4 separate regions of the Homo sapiens genome follow, and regions 2, 3 and 4 are each linked to region 1. Evidence: fine-mapped expression QTL. A gene starts in region 1. Each other region holds a variant in brackets. All regions are shown on one strand. Distances are between the middles of the regions.

Region 1 (5,152 bases):
CTTAAAATTAACAACATCCTCATCATCTTGTGGTTGAAATGATGACTGAACAATAACTCAAGCTAGTTGTGTTCTATATATTTTTAATTAATATAATTAGTATTCCTAGATCTTTTTAAATTGCTCTACTCTAGCCCTAGGGAAAAATGATTTCAGAAGGCTGAATACGTATGCTGATTCAAGATATGATTTCTCACACACCCAACCTCTATAATTTTGGATTATAGAGCAATATAGAGTAATTCTGGCACCATCTCTTTGGCAATGCTGTTTAAAAACAAAGTTACTATTACACACAGCCCAGGATATTGACTTCGCATTGCACATAAATACATTTATATAATACTTTTTCTTTAATATAGAAGCCATAGCCTTGATTTTTTTGAAAAATGATGAAGAATATGGTAATTATGAGACTCTCAATTGACTCAAAAGTTCAGAGCTAAAATCAAGGTAGAGTTTGAACACACCTTACAAAAAGTTGAGATCCAAATTGCATAAAATTTATGAAACTTTTGATTTAAGGACTAAGTTTTCTGGTAACCTCTTTGGGAACATCAGGATAATAAAAGATGATTAAGTAATAATGGTATCTCGGCCGGGCACGGTGGCTCATACCTGTAATCCTAGCACTTTGGGAGGCCGAAGCAGGAGGATCACAAGGTCAGGAGTTTGAGACCAGCCTGGCCAATATGGTGAAACCCCATCTCTACTAAAAATACAAAAAAATTAGCCAGCTGTGGTGGCGCATTCCTGTAATCCCAGCTACTCGGGAGACTGAGGCAGGAGAATTGCTTGAACTCAGGAAGCCGGAGGTTGCAGTGAGCCGAGATCACGCCACTGCACTCCAGCCTGGGCAACAGAGCGAGACTCTGACCAAAAAAAAAAAAAAAAAAAAAAGAAAGAAAGAAAGAAAGAAAGAAAGATGAAATAACGATATCTGATCAAATTATTTGCCTTGGCCGGATGGGTGCCAGTCCTGGCTATAAAATTCACCATCTGGGAGACCTTGAACAAATTATTTAATTTATCTGATTCAAACTTGCTGTCTATAAAAATGAAAATAACTTTATGTAGTTTCTAACTTAGAACAATAAATTATTAATGATAAATATGAAAATGCTGGGAAGAGTTTCAATCACTACTAATATATATTCATTATCTAGCATTGTCTTCTTCAAATGGATACATTTTAAAAACAGCCTTTAATCATAGAACCACTTTTTTGCATAACTTTAAGCCATAGGGCTAATTATACACGACACAAATCTAACCAACAGAACTGTACTACTTAGATTAAAAGAAACTTGCAGAAATGATAGTTTTGCATAACTTTAAATAAAAGGCTAACTACAGATGACACAGAAATCTTACCAACAAAACTGCATTATTTCAGTTTAAAAGAGACATGAAGAAATGACATTAACAGTCCAAGTCATATATAAAGAAGCCCACACAAAGGGGAACTGAAACGGATAAACGGACTTACTTGGGAGTTTATCTTGAAAAGGAACTAAAACATACATCCCAAATAACCAATGTCTGCAAGATCCAAAAAGACAGAAGAACTCCAATAATGGAAAGGACTCAGTGACACTGAATTACAATGGACAAGTCCAGTAAAATTCAGTTCTTCCTACTATTCCTCCCAACAAAAGCAGAAAACAACCAACACGCACGGTACCGGTTGACTTGTTCTGTGCCACTCAGAGTAGGTGCGTGGAAGAGCAGACAGGAAGCTGGGGCATATTTAATGAATACTGAAAGGGAGGACTGAGGGTTTGGCAAAGTGTTCACGAGACGGACCCTACCTTTCACAGATTTCCCAATACTGTGTAAGTGAGTGACAGAACTGTAGTTTTGGGCAACAGTCTTCAAAAACGCTTCCATCCCTTCCTGGCGGTGGTAGTTGAAATCCAGCGCAGCTACCAAAGGCAGCAACAGCCCTAGCCAGAGGCACGGGAAGTCCATGTTCTAGAGATGAATAAAAATAAGAAGAACCTGAGAACACATGAGGGCAGGCGGGGGCATCACCAGCTACGTCTCGGTACTCCGGTCTCAGGGTCTCCCGACACTGACGCTCCCTGCCTCCTAAGGAGGCAAAAGCTGGAAGCAACACCTTCGGGAGTGAGCCGTGCAACCAGAGACCGGGAGCACGGGCAGCCTCGGTGCCCTCGACCCAGCCGCCCGCGCCTCCCTCTCCTCCTCCTCCTGGCGCCTCCGCCGTCCGGCAGCTGCCACAGCTGCGCCCGGCCCCGCGCACCCCCAGCCTCACCAGGTCCCAGGCGCGCACCTCTACCCACCCGCGGCCGCCCGGCGGGGCCGGGTGTTATAGCCCGGTCAGAGGGCGGGCGCGCCCGGGCCCCGCCCCCGGACGTCCCTCCGGCCCACTCCGGAGCCGCGCGGGTGCCTCCCGGGCGGGGCCTCAGCCGCCTTCGCACCTAGGAGAGACGGCGCCCGCGCGGTGCGCCCTTTCGTGGCGCGGCTGCTGGTGCCCGCGGCCGGGCGGCTGAGCTGGGCGGAGGGCTGCGGGCATGGAGTCGCCGCTCGCGGACAGTCTTTGCTGGAGCCCCAGGTCAGAAGTGTGTCCTCGCCTCGGCCACGGCTGTAGCCTGGGCAGCCACAGGGCGCTCCACCGAGGGACACTCTCTGTCGCAGACTGCAGCCGCTTGGGAGACGTTTAGGGCTCGGCGGGTTTCCTGCGGTTGGCGGTGCCGGGGCCCACCTGGAGCCGGGACGCATGCGGAGTCCTGAGTGCCCTGAGCCCCGCGCGGGCTCCTGCGGGACGGGCGGCGTCGGCCCCGGCAGGGCGAGCCAAGCTCCCAGCAGTGCCAAGCTGCCCAGCGAGGCTAAGCAATCACGGGGCTTCGAGAAAGAACGCGCGCGTGTGTGGAAGTTTTAAATGCCACGAAGTGCAGAGTGCAGGACATTTTCCAACAAGTTTACATAGTGGGTGGGATTTGTGTAAATTAGAATTGAATTTAAAACTGGAAGTCACATCGAAGAAGGCAGGACCACTGTTGTAAATCCGATGCTTCCTCCACCTGCACCTGAGTCTTAGGCCAATTACAGGTCTCTCGTCCTAAAACGTCCTAAAATGCTCCTTTCTGGAAGGATGGCATGGTCTCTGCACGAGAGAGAACGAAGGCTTCACTCAAACCTGAGAGGTGGTTTGTGGCACGGGCCAACCCCCTCTACCTCTCTAAAAGATTCATTCTCATTCATTCTCTCTCTCTCCCCTCCCCCTCTCCCCTTCCCTCTCTCCCCCTTTCTCCCACTCTCTCCCGGATTGTAAGTAACCGTGTCAGGGTATTGGGGGCCCGTGTCAAGGTCCGCAGAATATAAAAAGTTTGAAAACCACTGATTTGAGATAACATTCCACTTTTACAGACTAAAAATACGGATGCAAGCCCACGACTAATTGAATAGAATTTTTCTCGTGGAGGCCCAAGAAAGTGTATTTTTAGAGAGGACCTTGAATGAATCTAATGTGCCTTCAAGAGCTGAGAACCGTTAGATTCCCTGCCCCTTCTTTCTTACAGATATAGATACTTTTCCTAGAATTGCGCACTCAGGACTCCCTGAGACTTCCAGTGATTCTGCCGCAGCATAGAAGAGTGGTTTAAGAACTGAGGCGCTCTGCCCTTGCGATAGTTTGCTGAGAATGATGGTTTCCAGCTTCATCCATGTCCGTACAAAGGACATGAACTCATCCTTTTTTATGGCTGCATAGTATTCCGTGGTGTATATGTGCCACAGTTGTGCACATGTGCCCTAGAACTTAAAGTATATATAAAGAAAAAAAAAGAACTGAGGCGCTCACGGGATGAGTGCCAATTCTTGCTCTGACACTCAGTGGCTGTGTCGACTCTGTGCCTTATTTTCTGGTGTGTAAAGTGGAAGTCTTAATTGTACCTACCTAAATAAGGTTGGCAGGCACATTGTAAGAACTGTGCGAAGCGTTTATTACATAAATAAACCAGCTTAATTCGTAACTCTTTAAAGGGAATTTTCCAAGAGTTGGAATTTTTTTTTTAATTTTTTATTTCTTTCTTTATTTTTTGAGATGGAGTCTCAATTCTGTTGCCCAGTCTGGAGTGCAATGGCATGATCTCGGCTCACTGCAACCTCCTCTCAGGTTCAAGCAATTCTCCTGCCTCAGCCTACCGAGTAGCTCGGATTACAGGCACCTGCCACCAGGCCCGGCTAATTTTTGTATTTTTAGTAGAGACGGGGTTTCACCATGTTGGCCAGGCTGGTCTGGAACTCCCGACCTCGGGCGATCTGCCTGCCTCGGCCTCCCAGATCGCTGGGATTACAGGCGTGAGCCACCGTGCCTGGCCATCTTTTTTTTTTTCTTAAAGAGAAGTTGTTTTATTGTTTGTTTGTTTGTTTGTTTGTTTGTTTGTTTTGAGATACAGTCTCACTCTGTTGCCCAGGCTTGAGTGCAGTGGTGCAATCTCAGCTCACTGCAGCCTCTGCCTTCCAGGTTCAAGCGATTCTTGTGTTTCAGCCTCTAACGTACCTGGGATTACAGGCACGCATCGCCACACCTACGTAACTTTTGTATTTTTACACCACACATGCCTAACTTCTGCATTTTTAATAGAGACCAGGTTTCACCATGTTGGCCAGGCTAGTCTTGAACTCCTGGCCTCAAGTGATCCTTCTGCCTCAGCCTCCCAAAGTGCTGGGATTACATGAGTGAGCCACCTTGCCTGGCCTAAGAGTTGGAAGTCTTAGTATGACATTGTAGAGTCTTTGAGTAGGTTTTTTTTTTTTTAATTGTGCAGTAGTCACTATGCTAAATGTTATTTCCACTGGAAGGGTTGAAGACGTTTCCCTTTCATTGTTGTTCATTGACTAAGAGGTCTGAGGAGGGGGACTGGAGCTTGAGAAGATTAAATTTAGGCAAAGTTACTCTAGGAATGGGAAAGGGAACTGGGTGGGAACAAAGTGAAGGCTTGCTGATGTACCTTAGAAATCCTATCTTTTTAAGAGAAGTACGTGGACACTATCTGATTTCCTGCAGGGTGCTGTGGCTGGAGACTGGAAGAAATGGTGGCTTCATCAATACTGGAATGGAGATTGCCAGGATTGTTGTTCTGGAAAAACAGAGATGAGCTATAGTTGAAATTGCTGCCATTGGGGT
Region 2 (5,152 bases), 32 kb after region 1:
TTGTAGGTCATAAGACCCCCATTCCAGAAAGGGTCCTGTCCCATACGCAGAAGGAAGAAATGCTGCTCAGAGAGGCCAAGAAGAATCTAGACAGACAGGCCTTGCTGGGTTTCCTCACTCCATCTGTTAAAGTTACATCATACCCTTTTGTCCAGTCATATTTCTAAACAGCTCTACATACTTTTTGAACCTAAGCATAAAAATGTGCACTTTCCTCTGTCTTCATTCTGAAGGTTCCCATGTACACATTAAATGCATTTGTATGTTATTTCTCCTACTAGTCTGCCTTTTGTGAGTTGATTTTTCAGTGAAACTTCATAGGGAGAAGGGGAACTTTTCCCTTGGCCCCTAGATAACTAATCTCCAGAACATTCTCGCCTTGCAAAACTGAACTTCTATGGCTATTACACAACTTCTCATTTCCCCATCCCCCTAGTGCCTGACAACCACCATTCTACTTTCTGTCCCTATAAATTTGACTATTTTAGACACTCCCACCAGTGGAATTTTATAGTATTCATCTTATTGTAACTGGCTTATTTCACTTAGCATAATGTCCACAAGGTTCATGCATAGTATAGCATATGTCAGAATTTCCATCCTTTGAAATGCTAAGTAATAATAGTTCATGGTATGCATATACCACTGTGGGGGAAGAAAAAAATGTTTTCCTTTACCTTCTTAGGTTCAGTATCTGGGGCCCTGCAAATTAGACTGACAAAAGACAGATTAGCAGGAGGAAAGGTTTATCATGTATATATACAGGGGCCTTCCTAGAAAAGTGAAGGGGCAGAGAAGCAGTTAGACCTAAGAGGTGACACAGCATTTTGACAAACAGTGATACATTTGATACATTGCAGAGATTGACAAGACAAAGGAAAAGGGGGATTCCTAATGGTGGTAACTTGTGGGAAGGAAATATATAGGGAAATAAATAGAAGAAAAGGGTGGTTTAGTAAGGTTTGTTATATACATTCCTCTCCAGGTCTTTGGGCTGAAAAGAATCTAGAGTCATCTCCAGTGATGAAGAGTCCCGATGATTAATGAAACCACCTTTGCGAAGATTATGACAGCAAGAGGAGTCTAACATGACCAACTCCATCTTGCTTCTAGCCTCACAGACTGGCTGTCTTCACGCATTCCTGGGCATAGGAAGCTAACCATGGAAGGGATTTAGTTTCTAGTTTAATGTGGAAGCAAGGATGACAATCCCTCCCTAAAACTGATCCCCTCCTTGTTCAGGAGCTGAAACCACCTTTGTAAAACTGATGAAAGACCGCAAGATTAGAACTATGGGAGTGGCCTAAATTCTGCTAAAATATAGTTTCTATAATCCCTTACTACTCAGGAGTCATGTGGCCAGAGGTCACAAGATTTGTGACTTCCCCTATTGCTCCTATAGATAACATTATGATTGTAGAACTTAAGATTGATCTTTTGAGATGTTTTTCAGACTTTTGCATTTTGGCCACTGACCGACGCTACTGACTCATGACTCAGCCGGTCCCATGGCCCCCACCCAGAGGCAGACTCAGTGCATGAGGACCATCTTCCACAACCCTATGATTGTATCCTCAGTCAGTCAGCAACACGTATTCCCTAGTCCCCTACCCACCAAGGTATCCTTAAGAAACCCTAACCTCCAAGCCTTCAGGAAGACTGATTTGAGTAATAACTCCATCTTCCATGTGGCCAGCCTAGTGTTAATTAAACTCTTTCTTTACTGCAATACCACAATCTCAGTAAATTGGATTTGTCTGTGCAGAGGGTAGACCAAATCCATCAGGTGATTGCATTAAGAGTTGTTCTCTTCCTTGGCAAGGGAGAGGACACCTTTATAAACGCATAACCTAAAAATAAAATCCTAAGCCCACACTGACTGAACAGATCCTTCTTGGCCATGGAGACACAAAAAACCTTAAGAACTGAATTTCCAACCATGACAGCAAGTGAGGTTGAACACACTTTTTTATACTCCCTCCCTTCTGGAGTTTAGGCACAACTGACCAGTATTAATGTTAAAATAGAGATCATAAGACTGACAAAACAGACTCTTTGTGACAGTAAGATACCAAATTGTAAACAGGACCTATGACCATGCCAGACAAGGGTTAAGTCACATCCCTACAGGTCACTCTGACCCAGTGTATTGGGTAATGAACCTCCTTAACTTAAACATTCCTTTCTACCGACTTCAAATCTTTAGACAAAGCTTAATTTTTTCAACCAATTTCCAACTAAAGAATCCCCAAAACCCACCTATGACTTGTAAGTGCTCTTCTCCCCACCTCAGGATGTCCTGCCTTTTTGGGCTGAACCGATATTGTCTTCCATAAAGTGATTTATGTCTTTAGCTGTAATTCCTATCTCCTTGAAATGTATACAACCAAACTATAACCCGACTGCTTTGGACACACTTTCTCTGATTTTTTTTTTTTTTTTTTTGACATAGTCTCCCTCTGTTGCCCAGGCTGGAGTGCTGTGGAATGATCTCGGCTCACTGCAGCCTCTACCTCCGGGGTTCAAGTGATTCTCATGCCTCAGCCTCCCGAGTAGCTGGGACTACAGGTGCCCACCACCATGCCCAACTAATTTTTGCATTTTTAGTATAGACAGTGTTTCACCATGTTTGCCAGGCTGGTCTTGAACTCCTCACCTCAAGTGATCCACCTGCTTTGGCCTCCCAAAGTGCTGAGATTACAGGTGTGAGCCACTGTGCCTGGCCATGAGCGCACTTTCTCAAGACCACTTAAGGTTGTTTTTCTCCAGGTCATGGCCCTTCATGTTGGCTCTGAAAAATCTCTTTAAACTGTTTTGCAGACTTTGGTTTTTCCATTAAAAATGGAAAGTCATGTCCTGCTTTTAGCCAGATAGGGGGAGGGCAGAGAGTTTTTGTTTGTTTGTTTGTTTGTTTTTTGTTTTCTGTCTGCTGTTTCTTGATTGTCTTCAGCTCAAAATAATTCTTATGCCAAAGTGGCATATTTTGGGGTGTCATATTCTGGTTCCCTTCACCACATTTTGTTTATCCATTCATCCATTGATGGACACTTGGGTTGTTAGGCTTTTTAAAA[A/G]TACTCCCAAAATGTCTTATCAAGACATTAATTTGAAACAAGTGCAGTGCTCTCTCTAAAAGGAATTCTACTGAATAAAATTTCTCCATTGTTACCAACAGCAGACTGTGTTTTGGCTGCCAGGTTAAAAAAGCAAGTTAAACCAGCATTAAGTAAATAATCGACCATTATTTCAGAAGGGTGTCTTCATCTATCTGAGAGTTCCAGAATCCCCATCTGCAAATGCTGGCTAAATAGTGATCTTCACTTGTCATTGCAACTCATTTGCAACTTGGTAGCTTGGAACCAGGAGAATTAGTGGAAGGTCCAGCAAAGAAGGAATTGATCTTGAAGGACAGTTTTCTTGCTGATATGACTTCATGGATCAATGAAGTTCATCAAATGAAATCTTTGTATACATATGCTAGAGTTAATGGAGTCCATAAACTTTTCATAAACATACTGAATATGCTGTGTTATGGAACTCCAGTGTTCCTGTGAGTTCCTTTGCTTCCTTTTCCCTTTACCTCATTTTCTTTAATCAGAAATACATGTGACTTCAGTCATATGTGAGGCTTCTGCTTGCCTTGTGTAAAGGAAATAAGTAAGGCCTATCCTACATAAGACAGCTCCTGTCCTAAATATTAATAAGAAGAGAAGGTGTAGTTCATCTGGAGTAGAAGGATGAAGAAGAAAGAGAGGGGATGTCTGAAGCCAGAGATCCATGTGGAGCATATTATAGACTTAGGTAAGTGAACAGCCATATCTTAATATTTGAGTTGATGAATGGGGCCTAACCATTATCAGCCAGACTGTTGAAGGGGACTAGCAGAAGTTGGAAGCATAGATAGAAAGAGAAGACAGGACAAATAATCAGCTTTTTGCTTCTATGTCTTGAACTGAGCTAACTTGGACATAAATTTGCTCCTGAGTCTGAAAGGCCATGTAGAAAAGTTAATAATAAGTCTGCTGAAGCTAATGACTAATATTCTGACTTCTGCTGCTTCCCTGGGTGAGTACGGGGTGGTGCAGTAAGGTGCAGCGTCATGTAGACTGTCACTGTGATAGGAAACAGAGCAACATTAATATCTACTGGTATTTAAGAGCTTCTCCGAAAGACTTAGAACTTTTTTCAGTTGAAGCTATGAATACTTTCACCTCATAACAGGTGTCCTTAGCTGAAGTCCTGGACCTTAAGTAGTGAAAGACTTGAGTAGACTTTTAGTTCAGATGGGACCTCTTCAAAAGAGATCTTAGGACCAGGGCTGAGCAAAGGTTGAGGCTGTGCAGAAACATCCCCAGGCAAATTGTCAAGTAAATGGGTTTCTTTTTTATTTTTATTTTTTTGAGACAAGGTTTCTGTCACCCAGGCTGGAGTGCAGTGGCATGATCATGGCTCAATGTAGCTTTGACCTCCGTGGGCTCAGGTGATCCTTCCGCCTCAGCCTTCCTGAATAGCTGGGTCTACAGGCACTCACCACCATGCCCGGCTAATTTTTGTATTTTTTGTAAAGATGGAGTTTTGCCTTATTGCCCAGGCTGGTCTTGAACTTCTGGGCTCAAGCAATCTGCCCATCTTAGTTTCCCAAAATGCTGGGATTACAGGTGTGAGCTCTGTGCCCAGCCCTAGGTTTCTTTTCTAATTCCTCTGACCTCCTCAGAGAAGGTTTGGAAACCTGGGTTATGGGGGTGGGGAGAATGAGCTACCCTCCTCAAATTCACAAATATTTCCTTAAACACAGATAATACAAATTTTTCATAATGCCATCAGAAATATAATTAGTATACTTGTCAAAGTGCTACAAGAATGTTGTACAAGTGTAATATGTCAAACATTTAAACCCAAACTCTTCTCCCCACATTGGGAACCCAGATTCAGACTTTAGGTCAATGCTTAGCTTAACATTTAATGTCTTATCATGGGCCTCTTATTTAGTATGCCCTAAAAAGCACATCAAAAAGAGAACAAATGTTTATGAAGGCAGGTGGAGCTCTTTTCTTTTAATGGATCATAAAGCAATGAGCTTCCCTGGGTTTCATTGGCGTTAGCTAATGTGACAGGGTGTAGATTAATAATTTAAAATAGAAATATACTTGGAACT
Region 3 (5,152 bases), 48 kb after region 1:
GATTACAGGCGTGAGCCACCACCCCCGACCAATTTGCTTGAAGAGACAGGATCTCACTATGTTGTCCAGGATGGTCTCAAACTCCTGGGCTCAAAGGATCCTCCCACCTCAGCCTCCCTAATAACTGGGATTACAAGTGTGAGCCACTGTGCCTGGCAAAAGTGAGTTTGAAATGTGTGGAGTCAGAAGCTATCTGTGGGGCATCTTTTCAAAGCTTATAGCTCATATATGAAAGAAGCTTAATTGAGGGTTTCCCAATCTTGATAATCATCCTCAAAATTCACATAATTTTACCAAATAACAAGTTGTGAAGCTGAAAAACTTTTGAGAAGTATTAACAACAAATGGTTTACCACTTTAAGGGAAAGACCAAAATGTCTTTCTAGTCTCTTAATAAAAAGCAAATACCAAGCCATTATCATATAAGGAGGTAATCAAAATATATATGGCCAAATAATGTAGGAAAAGGTATTGTAGAGGTATGTCAGAAAGTTTTATTAACTTTAATTAAATATTAATTATTTTTTCTGGATTTTGTGATGCTTATTTCTTAGCTTTTATTTGTAATTCTTTGTCTTCTCATTTTGAATAAATTTTCATGTTTGTGCTAGCTTTGTATTCATGATTTCACAGTCTTTTACTTTAAAAAGGCACCTCCAAATTGTAAGTCTCAAAATCTATAAAATCTGAATCTGCCCATTTCATGGCCACGCAGTCTAAAGCAACGGTACAGTCCCTCTGCTGTCGCTGAATTTCCATTCTCTCCTAGAAGTTCCCACTGCCTGACTTTTCCCCTTATGAAGAGATGTAGCTGATGTTGTTGAGACTCTGCGCATGACCCATAACCAGCCCGTGTGCCCCACTCCTGGGCACGCAGCAGCTAACACCTTACACCCATGGCCTTCTTCTAAGAAACGCTCTTGCCTAAGGAGCCTCTTTACCTGAGAGGCTACTACAACACCCTGGGGTGGCCAATGACTGACAGAGACGGGTACAAAAGCTCCCCACTGTTGCTTTCAAGGACAACTCTGAAGGTGTGATTTGCACTTCAGGGCCCCCAGGGATCAGGCCCAGGTTAGATTTTTCCACAGCACCCCTCTGCTTGGCTTCTTCCCCTTCCCCATCCTGATTTCTTCATCCTTTACAGGTTTTCCTGAGGAGAACATCCTCAATAAATCACATGCACCCAAATCCCCATCTCAGTCCCTGACAGTGTGTTTATCTTCTTACTGTCTGTCCCCACTTCTCAAGAGGATATAAACTAAGAGAGCAGTGACTTGACCCAGCTCCCTCATTGCTGTATTCCTATTGCCTGGAGCTTGGCGTGAAGTAACTACACCATGTAATGAGATGAATAAACGTTGAATGAGGATATGAATTCCAGTCACTTTGCACATCTTTCCTCTAAATCTCGTGACAACCAAGAGGGAGATATTGCTTCTTTTCATATTACAAGGTAACACCCCTAGGCAGTACTCTGGCTGCTGCTGAGCCCTGTTGTCCTCTGTTGGCACCATCACCTGACCTCCAGGGAAGGGGTCCAGCATTTCCCTGCATGGTCCTGACAAAGATGTGGATGTGGACCCCTCCCTGATCCAATGCAGGACAGACTGTACTGATGATGAAAGGACACGTGGCACAGAGCATGATTCAGACGCACTGCCGAGTCAGGACCCAACCCGAGACCCTTTCCTTGGCACGGTCCCAGGTTCTCTTACAGGTAATCGCCCAGGGACAAGGAAAGCCACCCTCCACCAACAGAAATGCTTCCGGCAATTGCATGACCCTGAGACTGCCAAGCATTGGCCAGATCTAGAGCAAAGAAAATATTCCTCCTACCACTACCAGATAAGCTCCTTCCAGAGTCTCTGTTCCCTACTCTCAAACTGACCTCTTCCCAATGACAAGGGCTCATTCCCTTCAGCAGACACCCCCATCATCATGGGACCATTGGATATTGGATATATGAAGTTATTAGGATAACCTCATAATATCTGGCAGTATATTTCCAGAGTTTATGCTATTCGCTCTTAAGTAACTCTCTCTACCCCAACAAGTAATCTGTGAGTAGCTACCCCAAGTTCTGGGCAGAGTTTTTCAGTTTCTTCTCAGAAAAGTCTTATAAAATTTTGTAGTGTGCTTTCATCTGTGACCATCTTCTTACAGAAGAGTAAACCAAAATGCATGCATTGAATATTTTATAGCTTGGGTATGAGAATAAGATGAGCCCACATGAGACAATTACCAGTACAAAATTAAACTGTAAATAAGACAGGGAGTTAGAATCTACCTAGAAGGCTATAGTGCTTTTGTTGGAGCTTCCAAAAGGAGAGGGTGAGATCAGCTCTGGTTAGCTCGAGTTTGTGGGAAGTCACAGACATGATGCATTTCCTTTTGGCACTAGTTTGTTTGGCAGGGACACGTCACCTAAGGTGATAAGGATGAGCTAAAGGGGCTGGCTCTCCACCAACCACTGCAAGGGATGGAAGTGGAGGAGCTGCTTGGCATCTCCCTGTTGTTCCATTATCTCTTCCTCAACATCCGATTCTCCTTCCGGTCATCCTCCTTCCTATCCTTCCCTCTTTCTCCTCCACTTTCCATTCATCTGACCTCTCTTTTCTTCCCTTTTCCTTTTGAATTTAAGGTTTGGTCAGTTTGAGACATACACTCTACTTGTGAGGCACAGCAATTTGTGGAGGAGAAAGGGCCCCTGAGTGAAACAGACCTGGGTACCAACTCAGATTTGTGCCTTACAGGCAAGTTATATAACCTCTCATAGCTCTGTGCCATCCATAGAAGTGAGGACACAAAGCTTTCTCAA[G/A]TTATTTGAAGGAGTAAACAAGATGATTTATGTAAAGTGCCTGGCACATAGATAGCTCTCAGTAGATGTTTATTTTTCCTTACTTCCTTCCTCCTTATTTATTTTTTAGTGCTATGTGCATATTAAATAGTAGTCATTAAATGGATGCTTATTAAATGAGTATTTGGAGTTCAATTAGTAAACTGTCAAATACTTAGAATTATTAAGATTGGGAGGGATTTAATAATTATTATTATAATACCTTGTGCTAGGCACTGGGATTAGAGAAGTCCTTGTCGTATAATATCTGACACGACCCTCCCCAAATGCATAAGGTAGGCATTATTTTTATTACCCAAGATGCAGTCTTTATTACTCAGGGTCCACATTTCATTTTACAAATTAAGAAGCTGAGGCTTAGAGGGGCCAAGTAATTTACATGAGGTCACAGAATGGAATCTTGACACCAGAACCAAACCCTTCAACTGCTAGGTTAGACTGCAGAGTCATTGAATATTTTTGATCCCCTGCAGCCCATAAGGAAGGTAGAGCCCAGCAATTGGAGCATCATTTGTTTCCTGACTGCAAAGTGAATCATCCTTCTTAAAGATAGTATAAGTAATGTGCAGTTACGCAAAATTGAAAGATTTGAGACAGAGCCATATTGTTCTCACAGGAAAGGATTAAGGGGTGGGGGGATGTGGAAAATTAGGAGCATGGGAGGAAAATGGATTAAGTGACATGTTCTAGGGCAGCCCAGAGCTGGTGGATAACAGAAAGTTCTAATGGGGAATCTTACTAGGTTGTTTGCAGTTTAAGATGAGTTAAATCAAGTTTAGCCCAAAGCTGCCTCCTTACATATATTAAGTTCAGCCTAAGGGTATCTCTGTACACGTGAACTATAACAAGTGGAAGTAGAAATAGACCATAGCCTACATTTGTGCCAATCATCAAGGTTTGGCCAATCAAATGTAGCCAATTGTTTGAACCGTATTTAAATAAGGCAAACACCGAATTGTAACCAATCCAGCTGTTTCTGTACCTCACTTCTTTTTTCTGTATGTCACTTTCCTTTTCTCTCCATAAATCTTCTTCCCCCATGTGGCTCTGCTGGAGTCTCTGAGCCTATTCTGGCTCAGGAGGCTGCCCAATTCAGGAATCGTTCATTGCTCAGTTAAACTATTTTAAATTTAATTCAGCTGAAGTTTTTCTTTTATCAGATGGTGTCAGAAGTGGGATCCGAAGTAGAGCTTCTAACATCCCCTAGGAGCACTGAGTGACCAAGTGAGGAACTCTCTGGACTGATTGTGTCCATTGATCTCTTGGAGCAGCTGGGGATTGTGGTAAGTTCTCTCTCAGATTCCAAAGCTCCACGGATTTGTGTTTTTAGCTCTCCGAGTTTCTTTGAGCAAGTTTCTGATCCAAACTGGATTTGGAAGTTGTGATGAGAAACTGGACTGAGTCCAGTAATTAGCTGGTTTGGATCCAGCTAGAGGCTTCTTACATCTGACTGGGTCAGAAGGAAACCAGTAGTAAATGGCAATATTGCAGGGGGTGTAAAATTTGGCTTTTGGAAATTCACAGGAATTTTTGTGTTCTACCCCTTTGGTTCATTTTTCTTGTGCACTTAGGTAGGAAAAAAAATCAATCACTGACTAAGTTGATCAAGGGAACCTGAAAGCAAAGCCAATATTTGAGGTAAAAATGAGATCCTTAATTTCTGAAGAATTGAGTTCCTTCTGGCTTATACACGCACAAGTGTTAGGCCTTATAAGCAGCGAAGTCTTAAAGAAATGGCAAAATCTTACTAAAGATAACTTACAGTGGAACGTTCCAAATGAACAACACTGCACTGAAGTGTGTTAGAAAATGAGGGCTTCCAAATTAGTCTCATCTGTACTGATATGCAGAAGCTTGTAAAAAGATTTCAGTATTTTTATATGAAGACTTTATGAAAGGCAAATAAAAAGCTTAAGTGACTAATTGATTAAAAAAATTAAATCTGCTAACCTTTTGGCTTAGTTACTATTCTAATCCAAAGGAAGTAACTGCAGCACCAATTGGCTGACTTTGGGTAAGTAGTGGAGTACATTTTACCTGTATTGGGTTAGAGAATTGGGTTAGAGGCCCTCCCCTCAGTAAAGTCCCTCTTGGTTAAAAATGGATTTGGCACAATGGGCTGTTAACTGCTATTCTCTTTGGATTAATCTGTCTTGTACTTTTTGCTGATGACAATGGGTGACAGGATTAGGCATGTACAGGATCACGGGACCTGGGGAACCTTCCCCAAAGGGGGAAACTTGAGGGCTGATGGGATTGCTGGAAAATATCCCTTTGCAACTGACACGTGGC
Region 4 (5,152 bases), 74 kb after region 1:
AAGTGATCTGCCTGCCTCGGCCTCCCAAAGTGCTGGGATTACAGGCGTGAAACACCACACCCAACTGATGTTAGTATGTTTTTTATGAAGTAAGAGTCAGTATATATTTGATATGTGCCAGGTGCCCTTTGTCCTCTCATAAAACTTACTACCATCCAAGCTGGAGAGGCACAGGGCTCATGTTGACCCATGAAAGCAGATTGTTATATTTTCAAAAATTTTGCAAGCTCTTATTAAACACTGTTCCAGTCCTTACAACTATACAAAAATGATAGCTAGCATTGTTGAAAACAACATGGCTGAAGCTGAAAGAGGTTTCAATTTAGGGACTAGAATTCGTACAAGGGTGGGAAATAGTTTAACAGCAGATGACATCAGATCAAATGGCAATACTTTTATGGAGAAAAGAGTTAGCAGATAGGGATGCAGCTCCATTTGTCAAATCATGGTTGAACGGCAGCCACAGTTGCAGTCACAGACACAAGAGTTTGGCAAAAATCAACAAAGGCATTCAGTGAGATTCAACTGACCACATGGAATTTACAATAAAGGGTATTGTATAGTTGATTATTACTTGGAAGTTGTGTGCTACATATATTTACTAACATTCCTTTTCTCCCACAGCCAGTTGTTAAACACTTACCCCACTAGGGAGACAGACCATTAACAAATACACGGATAATAAATACGGTAAATTCAGGTGGTAGTAAGAGTTGTGAAGGAATTTGAGCAGAGTGATGTGGCCGAGAGTGACTGATGGGTGGGAAAGTCTTATGACACGGGCAGGGTTGTGAATGGGGAGAGTTAGCCAGCACATGAGGATCAGGGAGGTTATAGGTAGAAGGAAGAGCAAGCCCAAAGGCCATAAGGGAGGAAAAAATTTGCACGTTGCTATCATTGCTATTGTTAGCAGAATCTGCACTTGAGACCCCAGATCCAAGGATTCCACTCATCCCTTTCTTTCCCAGTCTGTAGCTGGGCAGTTGCTCAGGGTCACGATCTATTTGGCCCTGAAAGAAACACCTGGGGTTCCTGACTTCCTCCACAACGTTTCAGACACTATCAGAGTTCTGTATGGTTTAGATTATAAATGTTCTATGTATTCCTTTCTTGTTTCTCTTCTTTGGTGGAATTTGAAGCCATGGAACCTATATTTTTCCATTTTCCTTGTTCCTAAACTATCTTTCTTACCCAGGTCTAAACTAGATTCCATTGGATGTCTGAGGTCCACCTCCAAATTTTCTCCCATGGTAGAGTTGTGTAACCCAAAAATAAAATTCTAAGCCCTCCAACCCTCTGAATGGACTCCTCCTCTCGGCAAGGGCATCCCAAAGTTAACCTGAAAAAACAAGTTCAGGCCATTATGGAAAGTGGGAGCCAGACATGCCTCATTATACCCTCTTCCTTTTTGGAATTACTGACAGAACAGACTCTTTAAGTCTGATAAGAAACATTTACAAGCTCTCTGAAGCCTGCTACCTGGAGGCTTCATCTGCATGATAAATCTTTGGTGTCCACAACCCCTTATCATAACCCAGACATTCCTTCCGTCCTTTCTATTGATAATTACTCTTTCAACTAATTGCCCAGAAAATCTTTAAATCCTCCTATGACCTGGAAGCAGCCACCCCATCTCCAGGTGCTTCCAGTTGTCCCACCTTTCTAGACTGAATGAATGTACATTTTACATGGGATGATTGATGTCTTGCCTTATGTCTCCCTAAAATGTATAAAACCAAGTTGTGGCTCAACCACCTTGGGCACATCAGGACCTCCTGCGTCAGGAGGTCACAGGAGGCTGTATCATGGGTGCATCCTTAACCTTAGCCAAAAAAATCTCTAAGTTCTTTGAGATCTGTCGCAGATACTTTTGGTTTACGGTTGTGATTCCTCCAAGTGCCTCATTGCTAGGCTCATTTAATGATGTGGTTGGGGCTAGCAATTCTTTTTTTCAGTTTGGCTTTGGAAATTTACAGCTCCTAAAGTCAAACCAAAGTTTTGGGGCAGGTGTTTTGATTTTATATACCTTCAGTAATTGCACTTACTTGGTCCTTGTTGGTTCCTGAAATTCAGATCCTGCCTAGGCTCTGGGGAAATGCTCAAAGGATGTTTCTTTGTCATATAACAACAACACAGTCAACTCTTAAATGTCATGACTGTAATTCATTCCTTAATGATGGTGCAAATGAGTTAAATCTTTCATATTGTAGACTTTTAACTTTGCAAACATCCTTTAAAAAGCCATTACAGGGATATGCTCACTCCAACAGAGAAGTGCTTTGGCTGCAGCATGAAATAGCTAATTCATAATTTAAAGTATGATGCCTCTCCCTTTTCCCCTTTTTAGATAGTTTATAAAAAGGGAAACTTTCTCCTGTGTGTGCTGAGGGGCTGGATTTTTCACTGGCTGTTTGCCTTCCGAGCACTTTCTTCATGGCCAGCACTTATGAGCAAGCCTGGTGTGTTTAACTTAGCTGGTGAAATGATCAACGGTAAACGTCAGTTGCTGACATTAGAGCCAGCTGCTTGAAGTGTCAGCGCAGCTGCTTTGTGAGATGAGAACAAGATCTTACTGCTGCTCCTTGTTCCGTGGCGAGGCAACAAGAAAATGCCCATTATGAACCAAGGGGCTCATAACACATTCATTTTTACTCCTTTTACCACCAGCTCAGATTTCTATAGAGTGAAACCTAAGTTCAGAAATCTGGAAGCAAATGCAAAAAAAATGTACCCCTGCTTCTGAAACTGTGCTCTATTACTCACGGATTTCAGGATCTGCTTTTTCTTTTTTTTGATTGTATGACTCACATAGATTTTAA[G/A]GAACCACCCATGAGGGCCCCTATGCATTTGGATAATTAAGATTCTTCCTGGGTGAAGAGCAACAGTCCCTTCTTTCTGAATGACTGAAGATTTAAGAGCTCTGCATGCCCTGAACTACACTGTCCTGCGGTGAGGCTTTGTTTTCCCTTGTTCTGGTCCTGCTGGACCTAGAGATTGGGGTGCGAAGGTGCTTAGGGTGCAACAAAGGAAAGAATTGAGCAGGCCTGGACAATGTCACCTCACCAAAGCGGGGGCAGAAGGCAGCAGAGGAAAGGTGCTTAGTGCAAGCCTAAGGATCTTGTAAGCCTTTGTAGCCCGGACTCTGACCAGCCTGTTGTTTCTTTAACATCCTGCATTCAAGTATTTGATGCAAATATGATTGCCTCTAGGCAAGAGAATATAAATATTTGCCGAATGTATAATTGAATGGAAAAAATAGCTGTGTAAGTGAGGACAGCGATGATCTCTTCTTGCCTTCTTCTCTTTGTCCTGCTCCCTCTCCTTTCTTCCTTGGTTTTCAAAGAATTCAAAACAAAACAAAACAAAACAAAACAAAATGTAGAAACCTGTTTTGTCCTGGGAGTGTAGTTTCACCAGCTCCCTGCTGTTCCAGTCTATCCAAGCTGTCAATCAAAGCAAACAACAGAAGTTGGCTAGCATTCAAAGGAAAAATGTGTTTTATTACACATTTTGACATATGTTGGATGATTTAGTAAGATCATGGTGCCTTGTCTCATTTTCGAAGACTTCCTGAGTTCATTTTTTTTTCTTTTTTTCATAACTTTCATTGAACTTTTAATGGCCTTTTTGTATTTTTCTCATGGAGGATGCTTCATTAATAGAGGGACTATGTCCAGTAGGAAAATATAAAGTGGTTTTTTATTTTTAGAGAAAACAGGTACTAATATGAAATGGATGAAGTGCCTTCCAAGCCCATGGTTTCCAGGCTGTGTACCAAGGTGCCCTGGGGTGCCACTGGATATTTTAGAATTGTAAGGAAAGCACAGTGATACCTGACACCCATTCAGGTACCACACAAACTATTAGCTCACGGTAGTTGACAGCGTCACCATTAGATTGTGCAACATTTCAACATTTCTTTTGATTATGTCATATTACTTGTGAAGCTGGGTCTACTGTGCCTATCCTGTGGCACTACGTGCAGAAACATGAAACAGGAAATGAGGGTGGTGGTGTCCAGTCTAATTCCAAGGCTTGAGAAGTGAGAAAAGAGGCTGGGCATGGAGGCTTACTCCAGTAATCCTAGCATTTTGGGAGATCGTGGCAGGAAGATTGCTTGAACCTGGGAATCTGGGACCAGCCTGGGAAACACAGAGGAAGACCTTGTCTCTACAAAAATAAAAATAAAAATTAGCTGAGTGTAGTGGTGTACAGTGGTAGTCCCGGCTACTCTGGAGGCTGAGGTGGGAGGATGGCTTGAGCCCAGGAGTTGGAGGCTGCAGTGGGCTATAATCATGCCACTGCATTTCAGCAGAGCAAGACCCTGTTTCAAAACAAAACAAAGAAATGAGAGAGAGAGAAAAAGAGAGAGAGAAAGAGAGAGGAAAGAAGAAGATAAAGAAGCAGAAGGAGAAGAAGAAGAAGAGGAAGAAGAAGAAGAATAAGAAGCAGCAGCAGCTAAGAGAAGAGAAGAGGCGAGAAGAACTTTTATCTGAGGAATCCAAATCCTTTTAAATTACCAAGCCCAGAGAGACATTAAAATCAAACAGCAATCACATTCTATCGCCTCCTTTGAGCTACATATTCATCTCTTGAAATTGCTTGCTATTGCTACAAGTATCTATAAATTAACCTAATAATGTTGCATCAGACAATACAACCCATACCCTATAGCTGAACAATGTATAGCCTATCACTAATCAATGTTATTTCTGTAAACTAATGAGAATTCCTGATAAATAACTTTGTATCAGCTTACTCCCTGTTCCTTTTTTTTTTTTTTTTTTTTTGCCTTTAAAAACCTGCTTATTAACAAAGTCCAAAGGAAGCTTGTATTCCAGGTTCCTAGGGTCTGAATCTCTGGGGCAGCTGTCCTCACTTTCACTCAAGTAAACTCTTTAAATTATATTTTGTGCCTCAGCGTCTTCCTTTTAGTTTGACAGAAGTTATGCAGTGTTCAACAGGAAAATGCATCCCATTAATAGGTAACTTTAATTATTTAAGAATGAAATAAAATTATTTTATTTCAATTTTTATATACAGTTTTTCAGACTAAGTTGTTAGGTCATAAATATTTATCAAGTTGCTTAGACCTAATTAACAAATAGCTCTGGTAGGCGTTTCTTTTGGTTTAGGGACGGGGCACTGAAAA

Which allele goes with the higher level. Positions count from the first base shown, and alleles are read on the strand shown. Sizes are in standard deviations (SD) of each study's normalised expression. Not every link is listed here.
In carriers of allele G in region 2, the expression in monocytes after LPS of the gene that starts at base 2,305 in region 1 tends to be lower than with A alone (moderate effect, 0.64 SD a copy in Fairfax 2014).
With allele G in place of A in region 3, the expression in monocytes after LPS of the gene that starts at base 2,305 in region 1 is lower (moderate effect, 0.58 SD a copy in Fairfax 2014).

What was found. PIP is the estimated chance that this variant, and not a neighbour inherited with it, causes the effect. A credible set is the group of variants that fine-mapping cannot tell apart.
Region 2: its variant is the best candidate, but not a certain one, in a credible set for the expression of CPM in monocytes after LPS (Fairfax 2014, PIP 0.58).
Region 3: its variant is the best candidate, but not a certain one, in a credible set for the expression of CPM in monocytes after LPS (Fairfax 2014, PIP 0.89).
Region 4: its variant is the best candidate, but not a certain one, in a credible set for the expression of CPM in whole blood (TOPMed, PIP 0.82).

The regions. Positions count from the first base shown.
Region 1 is chr12:68,930,867-68,936,018 of GRCh38, forward strand. CPM (carboxypeptidase M) reads right to left here and starts at 2,305. Exons shown (of 9, transcript NM_198320.5): 1 at 2,276-2,305; 2 at 1,812-1,974. The coding sequence starts at 1,971. RefSeq lists silencers at 2,185-2,544, 2,575-2,684.
Region 2 is chr12:68,963,178-68,968,329 of GRCh38, forward strand. It overlaps a transcript of CPM not described here. Among named protein-coding and RNA genes, the nearest start is that of CPM, 33 kb to the left of the region's middle. The variant A/G (reference allele first, on the strand shown) is at 3,072.
Region 3 is chr12:68,979,335-68,984,486 of GRCh38, forward strand. No RefSeq gene overlaps it. Among named protein-coding and RNA genes, the nearest start is that of TODL, 26 kb to the right of the region's middle. The variant G/A (reference allele first, on the strand shown) is at 2,822.
Region 4 is chr12:69,004,788-69,009,939 of GRCh38, forward strand. It overlaps TODL (transcript overexpressed in dedifferentiated liposarcoma), which reads left to right and starts at 2,872. Exons shown (of 3, transcript XR_001749099.2): 1 at 2,872-2,949. RefSeq lists an enhancer at 2,656-3,349. The variant G/A (reference allele first, on the strand shown) is at 2,820.